Homo sapiens: one gene and its partners. The protein of the gene in region 1 purifies or fractionates together with the protein of each later gene. This does not show direct contact. Each region holds a gene or a part of one and is shown in the gene's direction. Other genes may lie near its edges.

Region 1 (5,484 bases):
GTGGGGTGGTTGATGAGAAATTACCTAATGGGTACAGCGTACATTATTTGGGTGATGGACATACTAAAAGCCCAGGCTTCAACACTATGCAATATAACCACGTAACAAACTTGCACTTGTACAAAATAAGCTTAAAAACCAAGAGCTTTTGAGTCAGTATTTGACTTATGTAAAACAGGATTCTAACCATGTAACTTGGGGATTGAAAACAATCTTAGAGTTTATCACTATTTTGTTGTGATAGTTTTCAGAAAGGAGAAAAAATAGAATTTAAAAAGATTGGTAAATATTCAATTTCAAATGATGTCATTTCGGCTATTTAGGAGGTATTTATTTCCAGTGTGTTTTTATTAAGTCAAAACAACTGGGAAAACAGCCTATCAATGTACTACTTTTTGTTCCTCTGTTACTTGACAAATGTCATTTATTCAATTTATTTCAAAATAAGTCAGTAAATCTATAAATATAATTTCATATGCCTTGATTGTGATATTTATACAAAACTCACACATATTAATGTTTATATATTCTAGGACAAAAACAATTAGAAGACAACCTATTATCAATGGAGGAATAAATGTAGAAATTGGCAATCCATCTTATAACATGTATGAGGTAGATCATGATCACAACGATGGAGGTCTTTTAGATCCTGGCTTTATGATAGACCCAACAAAGGTAGTATGTCTTAAGATAATGGGCAGTGAGCACTAACATTCTTGAGTCGCATCTCTGTTTTATGGTTCTGAATTTCACCAAGTTTTTCTGTTATCTGAAGTTAGAATAAGGGACTTTAGGATGTATTGAATGATATAGCCTCTTCTAAAGAGAAAGTACAATTATGGACTGCATTCACCTGAAGCTGAGTGTAACACATCTTAGAAAACACATATTTATTTGCTCAGTTCTTTTATAAACATGTTTTTATATGTTTTTTATTGAAAAATGATTCATTATCTAATTTTGTTTACATAAAGCAAACGAAAAACTCATTTAAAAATTGTTTTAGTATTGATATCACACAGCAAATTGTTTAGGTCTTCTTCAGGGGATAGATAGATATATAGATAGATAAAGGTCTATTATAAAGTAAAGCTACTGACTTTCAATGTTGAAATATATGCAAGGAGAAGACCAATACATGCACAGCTTCTAGAAATATGGCTGAAAAGTAGTTTGGTGAGACATTTTCTTTTCTACCCACTTCCTCCCAGTATTCCTTACAGTGTGGTTCTATGGGGTTTTGGTTTGGTAGGAACTGGATACTTACAAGATAGTTTTGTTTTCATCACTTCAGACATGGAATCCTTCTTTTAATGTTTTTTGTTTTAATTGATACATAATAAGTAGGAAATCAGTACATTGAAGAGATATCTGTACTTCCATGATTTTTACAGCATTATTCACAATAGCCAAGATATAGAATCAACCTAAGTGTGCATCAACAATGAATAAAGAAAATGCTATTCAGCCATAAAAAAGAAGGAAATCCTGTCATTTGAGGCAACATGGATAAAGCTGGATGATATTGTCATATATGAAATAATCCAGGCACAGAATGACAAATACCACATGATCTCACTCACATGTGAATCTATAGAAGTTAATATTGAAGTAGAGAGTAGAATAGTGGTTACTAGAGGGTGGAGAGGGGAGGAGGAAGGAAAATAGGTGTTGTTCAATGGGTACAAAGTCACAGTCAGATAAGAGGAATGGGTTTTGGTGTTCTGTTGCACAGTTAGGTGATGGTGGTTAACAATATTGTATTGTATATTTAAAAATAGCTAGAAAAGGATTTTTAATGTTCTCGCCACAAAAAAATAACTATGTATGAGGTGATAGATATGCTAAATACTTTGATTTTTTCTGCAATGTATACATGTATAAAAACATAACAAAACACAGTATCTCATAAATATGTATAATTCATGTAAAATAATGCTCTAATCAAATGTGTTGAGGTATTAGCAAATCTAGATACACAGCTTAGTGTAAAAATCTTGGTCAGTGTATTTTTTAAATATAAAAGAGTACAGTACTTTATTATCAAAATAAGTATGTTGTTTCCAATAATGTTTAAATGATGAGCCAGATAAGCTGTGTCCTTGGACTTCTTTGTAATTAAATCACTTTTGAGAAATATTTTTCTATCTGTCATAATATCCTTACTAGTTTAAAACATTTCATTGATACATATAGCCTGACAATCCACAGCCTTTTAAATTTAAAAATATTTGTTAGTTTTTATTACTATAAGCTGAGGTTGGCAACTTTTAAGGGAAATAGCTAAATGATACAATTATCCAGTTAAAGTTGTGAAGATTTACTTCAGTGAATTATCTGAATATTCTTTCTGATAATTTTAGAATATTTTTTCTCTAAATTAAGAGTATCAATTTAGTATTATGAAACAATTTTTCTTGGTTTATTCACTTATTTATTGAATAGTTATTTATTTTTCTGACTTACAAAAGTTACTTCATCAAAATGCACTTTTACATTGTAAATATCCAATGTGGCCAATCTACATTCAAATTATTTTGCAATCACAGTCATTGGTGTTCCTGAAGAATCTGAATAGGATCCCACATATTCAGTCTAGTTCTGAACCCATGATTAGGCTTTCTAAGCCTAAAATTGATGCTCAACTATTCACTTCTATGAAAATCAATCTTTTCACATGGATACATTGTGTACTATCAGAGAATATTATATTTTTCTAATTAGACATAATTTTATAGTTATTAAAATTCACTCCTACATCTGAAATTTTTCAAGGAAAAAGTCTTGGTAACCTTACATTTGATATTTTCTGCTTTAAAATATCACAGAAGTGGAGACATGATACATATTTTACACATTGCTATTGATAATCTATTATATCTATGAAGGAGAAAGACAAATAATAGAGTTCTGAAATTCTTTGCATTTTTCTTAGGAATAAAAATATAGTATTCATACATATAACAGACTAATGACGATATACTTTACACATTTTTCATATGAAGGAGGGTTATTTTTTCCTCATCATTTTTATTTCTAGTGATAGAATTAATCCAATTTTGTACACTTAAAGAGAATAGCTTTTTACACATTCAAAAATTTTCACATTTACTCTAGGAAGATAAAACTATGTTTCAGTGCCCCCAAATATATTTTAATGTACTTAGAACATAATACTCAAATATTTACCAATTGGATGACTGAATAACCAAAATTGCATCAAATATGACTTAGATGACTGATTCTATCTGGATCCTGATATTTGAATATAAATGTGAATTGTTGTCAAATGAGTAACTACAGAAAAAAACAGCTAGTTCTAATAGGTTTAGACAGTAGTGAGAAACAAAGGGCCATATTGAAGCAACCTTAATAATCATATGAATTTTATAGAGCATTCACTTTGTTACAAGCGTTTGATATATGCATGGTGCAATCAGTATAAATTACATTACATGTGAAGAAAAATTTTGTAGAACACTCATTTCTGTTATTCTCAAAGAGGGTAAAATTTCTAGTTCAATGGTATCTTATAATCAAAAGGATTGAAAGTACTTAATGCAGTTAATAAAATTGATTTGACTATGGGGGTAACCACAGAACAGTTTGAAGAGTTTAAAAGAGATAAATATGTACTAGTTTTATCTTCAAATTCATGCCAATTCTTACTTGGACTATTCTTTATATTTTCTGAATAAGACTTTTGTGAGAGAAATGTCTACCTATGAAGCAAAGATCCAATATTAATATTGGATCTTTAATAATATTAATATTGGATATTTTAAGTTGTTTTAAGTTGTTAAAGCTAACATGAACACACTGTAAATGGTGTAAGGCTAAAGGGTATTTTTATGTTATTTTTATGAATTAACATGATATGTATCGATGAAAAGTGATTCTATAATATTAGATCAGAAACTAAAATTTTCTGTTTATATACAGGCCAGGTACATAGGGGGAGGACCCAGTGCTTTCAAGCTTCCACACACAGCGCCGCCCATCTACCTAAACTCTGATTTGAAAGGACCACTAACTGCTGGGGTGAGAGAAGAATATTCGTTATTTCATGTCCGTTTCATCACAGAACCCTCACAATCAAAGACTAATTACTAGACTTAGAGGCTTGTTTTTAATTAAGTTTTTAATTAACAAGAGATTTCAAAATAGCATTTAAATTGGGGGCTTATGTTATGTGTCCTGTCTATGCAAGATTACATCTAAAACATTATTTTAGGCAAGCCATTAAGTAGAAATATCTCTTCTACTGGATTTGGAAATGTTATTGTCCCTTTACAGTGAACATGAGTATTTGTTATTCTTAGCAAAGAAGCTCTAGCCAGAAATTAAAACTGAATAAACTTTTGATTTTATTCATTTCCTCTCATAGTGGTTTATTTAATATATACAAATTTGACGTGCAGTTAAATAGACTATACTTTAAAATGTGTCATCATATTGAGAAATTACAGACGGTCTAACAAAACCACTCTCAAAAACATGTTTCAATTAAGTAACTGGTGTTTAGAGAAAGCTGTTCTGTCTAAAGTTACATAGTTCATTTTAAGCAGAAGAGGAATAAAAATATGCATTATCAAGATTCCTAGGGATGAGAATTCTCTCCCTTATCGTCTTTCCCATCAACTGTTTTCATCCTCATTTTCTATCATGTTTGTCTCAATTGCATGGCTCAAAGATTATAATGTTTCCTTGTTGTAACTAAGATTTAATGTACTGTTTTTGGAAAGACGAAACAAAAAATAAGGAAAACAAACACTAGGCAAAATTTTCTTGGGATAAACTGCAATTTGTTAAATAGTGAACATTGTATGTATATGTTTTCCAACTCAAAGAGGTCAGCTGCTGCATGCCTCTAATTCTACTTCAAAATGCTATGTTTGTGAAACTTAAGATGACTGTGTACATCACAATTCTTTGAAAAAGTCCAAAAATATTTCTAATAAGTACACACAGGTTGTTTGAGGCAAAAATATTGCTTTAAAAATCTGATACACTAATGCATTTCTTTACATTTTTGTTTACTTGTTTTTAAGTTCATGTTGAAAAATTATAAGCACCAAACAAATGTTTTTCTGAAAACACATCTTACTTGCCACGGATAGGCTTGTAATAGCAATAAGGGGGACAACACAAAAACTGAAAACATGACAATTTAGTTTCACATTTTATGCTTTTATAATAAAGTCTCAGTGAACATAGCTTTTACAAAGATTTTTTTCTGGCTTTTTGTATATGGCAAAGCTCCTCTTAGGTTCACAAGTTACTTGCAAAATGTAAAATTATGTTTCATTTAATACCATGCTTGAGTTGAGTAAAGTCTGTAAATGTAACATGTAAATAACCTTTAAATCATTACTATTTAATAAATTAAATGTATTGCATATAAATATTGTTACGATTAGGAGATGGACATTCTAGGAAGTAAATAATTAATGTGGCCAAGACCAGTAATAAAATTATATT
Region 2 (3,500 bases), on another chromosome or scaffold:
TACTCCTATTAACCAAGAAGATTTAATTGAGCTATAGTTTTTATATTTTTATTGTAGAGATAATACATTTCATATGCCTTCAAACTGTACTTTAAACTGTACTTTCAAACGATGCTTGCCCTTTTCCCCAGTTCTGAACCTCCTAATCATGGCTTTCAGATATGGCCTTTTCTTCTGTTCTGATTTAGAAAATCGAAAATTGAACTGCTTCATAAAGCACTAAAGGAGTTTTCCATTTATAGGATTGCTCACCTTCATTTTAAGTAATAAGTATTTCTTTCAATTACTTTCTCTAAATAAATATAGATTTTTGTATAAGTCTATTAAAAATAGTTCCTTATACCTATTCATTATAGAAAATTTGAAACATATAGATAATAGAAATTAGAGAAAAATCATCTATAGTTTTATAACCTAAAGATGACTATTGCTAAAAATTAGGTGAATTTTCTTCTATATTTTAATAAGATGAATTGCTTTTTGAGCACGTGTGCTCTTACAATTGTATTCTTACGAGTGACGTATTTGACTACTAAAAAGTTTGATTTTTGTATGCGTCAAAAAAAGTAAGGGCAAACACCAAATGTTATATATTTATATATATATAAATATCTAATATATATAATATATAAATATATAATATAAAATATATAATATATAAATATATATTATATAATATTATATAATATATAATATATAAATATATATTATATATAATATTATATAATATATAATATATAAATATATATTATATATAATATTATATAATATATAATATATAAATATATATTATATATAATATTATATAATATATAATATATAAATATATATTATATACTATATATAATATATAAATATATATTATATACTATATATAATATATAAATATATATTATATACTATATATAATATATAAATATATATTATATACTATATATAATATATAAATATATATTATATACTATATATAATATATAATATATACTATATTATATATAGTATATTATATACTATATTATATAGTATAATATAGAATATATTATATATTGTATATAAGATAATATATTATATATTGTATATAAGATATAATATATTATATATTGTATATAAGATATAATATATTATATATTGTATATAAGATAATATATTATATATTGTATATAAGATATAATATATTATATATTGTATATAAGATATAATATATTATATATTGTATATAAGATATAATATATTATATATTGTATATAAGATATAATATATTATATATTGTATATAAGATATAATATATTATATATTGTATATAAGATATAATATATTATATATTGTATATAAGATATAATATATTATATATTGTATATAAGATATATTATATATTGTATATAAGATATAATATATTATATATTGTATATAAGATATAATATATTATATATATATTATAAATATGTATATTTTTATATATTATTATAAATATATATATTTTATATATATTATTATAAATATATATTTTTATATATATTATTATAAATATATATTTATATATATTTATATATAAATTTACATGTGTTAAAAATATGATTGTGTTCTTGTATTCTTACAATTGTATACGTTTCCCATTTCCCACTTAATATGAAAAAAATACACTCATATGTAATGTTCTTAGAGACAACTTTAAGATGTTATTTTTAATGGCTGCATGGTAGTCCAGCTAGCTAGTAAGTATACCATATTTTGCTTAGCCAGTCACCTACTTTTAGACATTTGACTCATTCCATATTTTTGTTATTATAAATTCCATCAGGATGTATATTTCAGTACATTAAAGTTTCCTTGCATTTATGATTATTTCCTTAGAATGAATTTCCAGTGTGGAATTTCTAGGTCAGAAAACATAAACAGCTTAGGATTCTTGATATATACATGATCATGAGATATTTTCCCTAAATGGTTATTCCAATTTACATGCTCACCTGTAATGCATCAGTGTCCATTTCACCACACCCTCACTAGAAGTGGGTATTGTAGTTAAGAAAATTTTCCCTTGACATTTGGCCTGTTATTCTTTATTTTATATTTACACTCTATCTCTTTATTTTCCACATTTTATATTCCTTTGGTTAGTGACTGTCATTTTATATGGTTGTTAAGCTGTTGTATTTCCTCCCATGATTTGGCTTTTTGTGTATTTTTCTCATTTAACCAGTTGAATCATACTTTTTTTAAACACACTCTATGTGTATATATATATATGTGCACTAATCCTTGATCTATTGCAAGGTATCCTTTCGAAGTTTGGTGTTTGCCCTTACTTTTTTGACACATACAAAAATCAAACTTTTTTAACACATTGTAAATTTATATATATACTAATCCTTGATCTGTTGCAAGGTATGTTTTCTAAGTTTGGTGTTTGCCCTTACTTTTTTTGACACATACAAAAATCAAACTTTTTAGTAGTCAAATACGTCACTCGTTTTCTTTGTGTTTGATTTCTTCCTTGGCTAGAAAGTCCTTTCCCCTTGAGATATGTCATAAAACTTCACTGCAGTTTTTGTTTTAAATTACGGTTTTGTTAGTTTACATTTACCTCTTTAATTCCATTTGGAGTTGTATTTTGATGTGGATAAAAGATCTAATTTGATTTTGTTTCCAGATAGCTAGCAATTGTCCTAATATAATTTATAAATACAACTTCCATTCTTCATTGATTTGCTAGCCGACTTTACCATATATTAAATTCTTATATATAACAGTTACTGTTTCTGGACTATCTATTTGTCTCAATTGATCCATTTATTCTTGCACTGATAGCACTATAGTATGATAATGTTTTAATATATTTTAAAAATTATTTGCTATTCTTATCTGTTGGTTCTTCAAAATGAAATCTAGAATCATTTTATTAAGTTAAAAAAAATTCATTGGACCAAATGTTTTAGCTCTCACATGCCAGTGAGAACACATGATATTTGTCTTTCTGTGCCTGGCTTATTTCACTTCACATAATGACTTCCAGTTCTATTTACATTTCTGCAAATAACAGGATTTCATTCTTTTTAATGGCCAGATAGTATTCAATTGTATATGCATAGCACATTTTCTTTATCCATTCATCTGTTGCTGGACTCTTCTATATCTTGGCTACTGTAAATAGTACTGTGATAAATGTATGGGCGCAAGTATCCCTTTGATATATTGATTTCCTTTCCTTTTGATAGATACCCTGTAGTGGGATTCCTCAATCATATGGAGATAGAGAGTAAAATGATAGTTACCAGAGGTTGGGAAGGGTGGAAGGCGATGAAGAGAGGTTGGCTAATGGGTACAAACAGACAGTTAGATAGAAGAAATAGGTTCTAGTGTTCAGTCGCACAGTACGGTGACTATAGTTAACAATATCTTATGTATTTTGAAATAGCTAGAAGAGAGTACTTGAAATGTTCTTACATATAGAAATGATAAATGTTTGAGGTGATAAATATCCTAAATATTCAAATCCCCTG
Region 3 (3,500 bases), on another chromosome or scaffold:
GATGTTTCTTGCAGTGGTGGCTCTCTCATGCAGAGAAAGCCTGTAGTCATGGCAGTCTGCTAATGTTTCACTGACCCACATTACCATCACTGTTATTTTGTTTGTTTATTTTGGAAATAAAATTCAAAACATAAACATATTGGGCCTTTGGTTTAGGCTTTCTTTCTTGTTTTCTTTGGTCTGGGCCCAAAATTTCAAATTAGGATATGTGGGTGCCACCTTTCCATTTGTATTTTGCCACTGCCTTTGTTTAGTTGGTAAAATTTTCATAGCCCAATTATATTTTTTCTGGGGTAAGTAATATTTTAAATCTCTATGAGAGTATGATGATGACTTTCGAATTTCTGGTCTTACAGAAAACCAAATAATAAATTTTTATGTTGGCTAATCGTATCGCTGAATTTTCCTATGTGCTATTTTAACAAATGTCCATGACCCAAATCCTTCATCTAATGCCTGCTATTTTCTTTGTTTTTAGGGGGTGTTGTGTCCTACAGGATGTCAGTTGCAAGAGGCTTTGCTACAACAGGAAAGGCCAATCAGAAATAGTGTTGATGAGTTAAATAACAATGTGGAAGCTGTTTCCCAGACCTCCTCTTCTTCCTTTCAGTACATGTATTTGCTGAAAGACCTGTGGCAAAAGAGGCAGAAGCAAGTAAAAGGTAGATATCCTTGTGCTTTCCATTCGATTTTCAGCTATAAAATTGGAACCGTTAGACTGCCACGAGAATGCATGGTTGTGAGAAGATTAACATTTCTGGGTTAGTGAATAGCATTCATACGCTTTTGGGCACCTTCCCCTGCAACTTGCCAGATAAGCACTATTCAGCTCTTATTCCCAGTCTGACATCAGCAAGTGTGATTTTCTATGAAAAATTCTACTATGACTCCTTATTTTAAGTATACAAGAAACTTGTGACTCAGAAGATAATATTTACAGAGTGGAAAAAAACCCCTAGCATTTATAGTTTTAACATTTGAGGTTTTGAATGAGAGAGTTATCCATAATATATTCAATTGTGTTGTGGATAATGACACCTAACCTGTGAATCTTGAGGTCAGAATGTTGAGTGCTGTTGACTTGGTGGTCAGGAAACAGCTAGTGCGTGAGCCTGGCACAGGCATCTCAGTGAGTAGCATACCCACAGTTGGAAATTTTTCAAAGAAATCAAAGGAATCATGACATCTTATAAATTTCAAGGTTCTGCTATACTTATGTGAAATGGATAAATAAATCAAGCATATCCACTCTGTAAGATTGAACTTCTCAGATGGAAGACCCCAATACTGCTTTCTCCTCTTTTCCCTCACCAAAGAAATAAACAACCTATTTCATTTATTACTGGACACAATCTTTAGCGTATACCTATGGTAAATTACTAGTATGGTGGTTAGGATTTATGTTAATTTGTATATGTCATGCGCCAAATCATTTCCACTAAATATGACTATATATCATAACTGCTTGGTGATAGCTCAGTGTTTAATAGTTTATTCTCAGAAAATCAAAATTGTATAGTTAAATACATTAGTTTTATGAGGCAAAAATGCTAACTATTTCTACATAATTTCATTTTTCCAGATAATGAAAATGTAGTCAATGAGTACTCCTCAGAACTGGAAAAGCACCAATTATATATAGATGAGACTGTGAATAGCAATATCCCAACTAACCTTCGTGTGCTTCGTTCAATCCTGGAAAACCTGAGAAGCAAAATACAAAAGTTAGAATCTGATGTCTCAGCTCAAATGGAATATTGTCGCACCCCATGCACTGTCAGTTGCAATATTCCTGTGGTGTCTGGCAAAGGTAACTGATTCATAAACATATTTTTAGAGAGTTCCAGAAGAACTCACACACCAAAAATAAGAGAACAACAACAACAACAAAAATGCTAAGTGGATTTTCCCAACAGATCATAATGACATTACAGTACATCATAAAAATATCCTTAGCCAGTTGTGTTTTGGACTGGCCTGGTGCATTTGCTGGTTTTGATGAGCAGGATGGGGCACAGGTAGTCCCAGGGGTGGCTGATGTGTGCATCTGCGTACTGGCTTGAACAGATGGCAGAACCACAGATAGATGTAGAAGTTTCTCCATTTTGTGTGTTCTGGGAGCTCATGGATATTCCAGGACACAAAAGGTGGAGAAGAGCTTTGTTCATCCTCTTAGCAGATAAACGTCCTCAAAACTGGGTTGGACTTACTAAAGTAAAATGAAAATCTAATATTTGTTATATTATTTTCAAAGGTCTATAATAACACACTCCTTAGTAACTTATGTAATGTTATTTTAAAGAATTGGTGACTAAATACAAAGTAATTATGTCATAAACCCCTGAACATAATGTTGTCTTACATTTGCAGAATGTGAGGAAATTATCAGGAAAGGAGGTGAAACATCTGAAATGTATCTCATTCAACCTGACAGTTCTGTCAAACCGTATAGAGTATACTGTGACATGAATACAGAAAATGGAGGTAAGCTTTCGACAGTTGTTGACCTGTTGATCTGTAATTATTTGGATACCGTAAAATGCCAGGAAACAAGGCCAGGTGTGGTGGCTCATACCTGTAATTCCAGCACCTTGGGAGGCCAAAGTGGGCTGATAGCTTGAGCCTAGGAGTTTGAAACTAGCCTGGGCAACATAATGAGACCCTAACTCTACAAAAAAAAAAAAAATACCAAAAAAAAAAAAAAATCAGCTGTGTTGGTAGTATGTGCCTGTAGTCCCAGCTATCCAGGAGGCTGAGATGGGAGATCACCTGAGCCCACAACCTGGAGTCTTGATCATGCTACTGAACTGTAGCCTGGGCAACAGAGGATAGTGAGATCCTGTCTCAAAAAAAAAAATTAATTAAAAAGCCAGGAAACAAGACTTAGCTCTAACATCTAACATAGCTGACAAAGAGTAATTTGATGTGGAATTCAACCTGATATTTAAAAAGTTATAAAATATCTATAATTCACAATTTGGGGTAAGATAAAGCACTTGCAGTTTCCAAAGATTTTACAAGTTTACCTCTCATATTTATTTCCTTATTGTGTCTATTTTAGAGCACCAAATATATACTAAATGGAATGGACAGGGGATTCAGATATTATTTTCAAAGTGACATTATTTGCTGTTGGTTAATATATGCTCTTTTTGTTTCTGTCAACCAAAGGATGGACAGTGATTCAGAACCGTCAAGACGGTAGTGTTGACTTTGGCAGGAAATGGGATCCATATAAACAGGGATTTGGAAATGTTGCAACCAACACAGATGGGAAGAATTACTGTGGCCTACCAGGTAACGAACAGGCATGCAAAATAAAATCATTCTATTTGAAATGGGATTTTTTTTAATTAAAAAACATTCATTGTTGGAAGCCTGTTTTAGGCAGTTAAGAGGAGTTTCCTGACAAAAATGTGGAAGCTAAAGATAAGGGAAGAAAGGCAGTTTTTAGTTTCCCAAAATTTTATTTTTGGTGAGATTTTATTTTGTTTTTCTTT

What was found. The genes of interacting proteins can lie anywhere in the genome.
Region 2: the proteins of LRP1B (region 1) and SH2D1A purify together in Homo sapiens (affinity purification with mass spectrometry, with the first as the bait; one study listed by BioGRID). This does not show direct contact.
Region 3: the proteins of LRP1B (region 1) and FGB purify together in Homo sapiens (affinity purification with mass spectrometry, with the first as the bait; one study listed by BioGRID). This does not show direct contact.

What each region holds. Positions count from the first base shown.
Region 1 is NC_000002.12:140,233,346-140,238,829, reverse strand, and holds part of LRP1B (low-density lipoprotein receptor-related protein 1B precursor), read left to right. Parts: intron 1-533; coding exon 534-678; intron 679-3,945; coding exon 3,946-4,044; intron 4,045-5,484. UniProt on the Homo sapiens protein: Potential cell surface proteins that bind and internalize ligands in the process of receptor-mediated endocytosis.
Region 2 is NC_000023.11:124,349,563-124,353,062, forward strand, and holds part of SH2D1A (SH2 domain-containing protein 1A), read left to right. Parts: intron 1-3,500.
Region 3 is NC_000004.12:154,566,011-154,569,510, forward strand, and holds part of FGB (fibrinogen beta chain isoform 1 preproprotein), read left to right. Parts: intron 1-478; coding exon 479-662; intron 663-1,582; coding exon 1,583-1,810; intron 1,811-2,370; coding exon 2,371-2,484; intron 2,485-3,171; coding exon 3,172-3,297; intron 3,298-3,500. UniProt on the Homo sapiens protein: Cleaved by the protease thrombin to yield monomers which, together with fibrinogen alpha (FGA) and fibrinogen gamma (FGG), polymerize to form an insoluble fibrin matrix. Fibrin has a major function in hemostasis as one of the primary components of blood clots.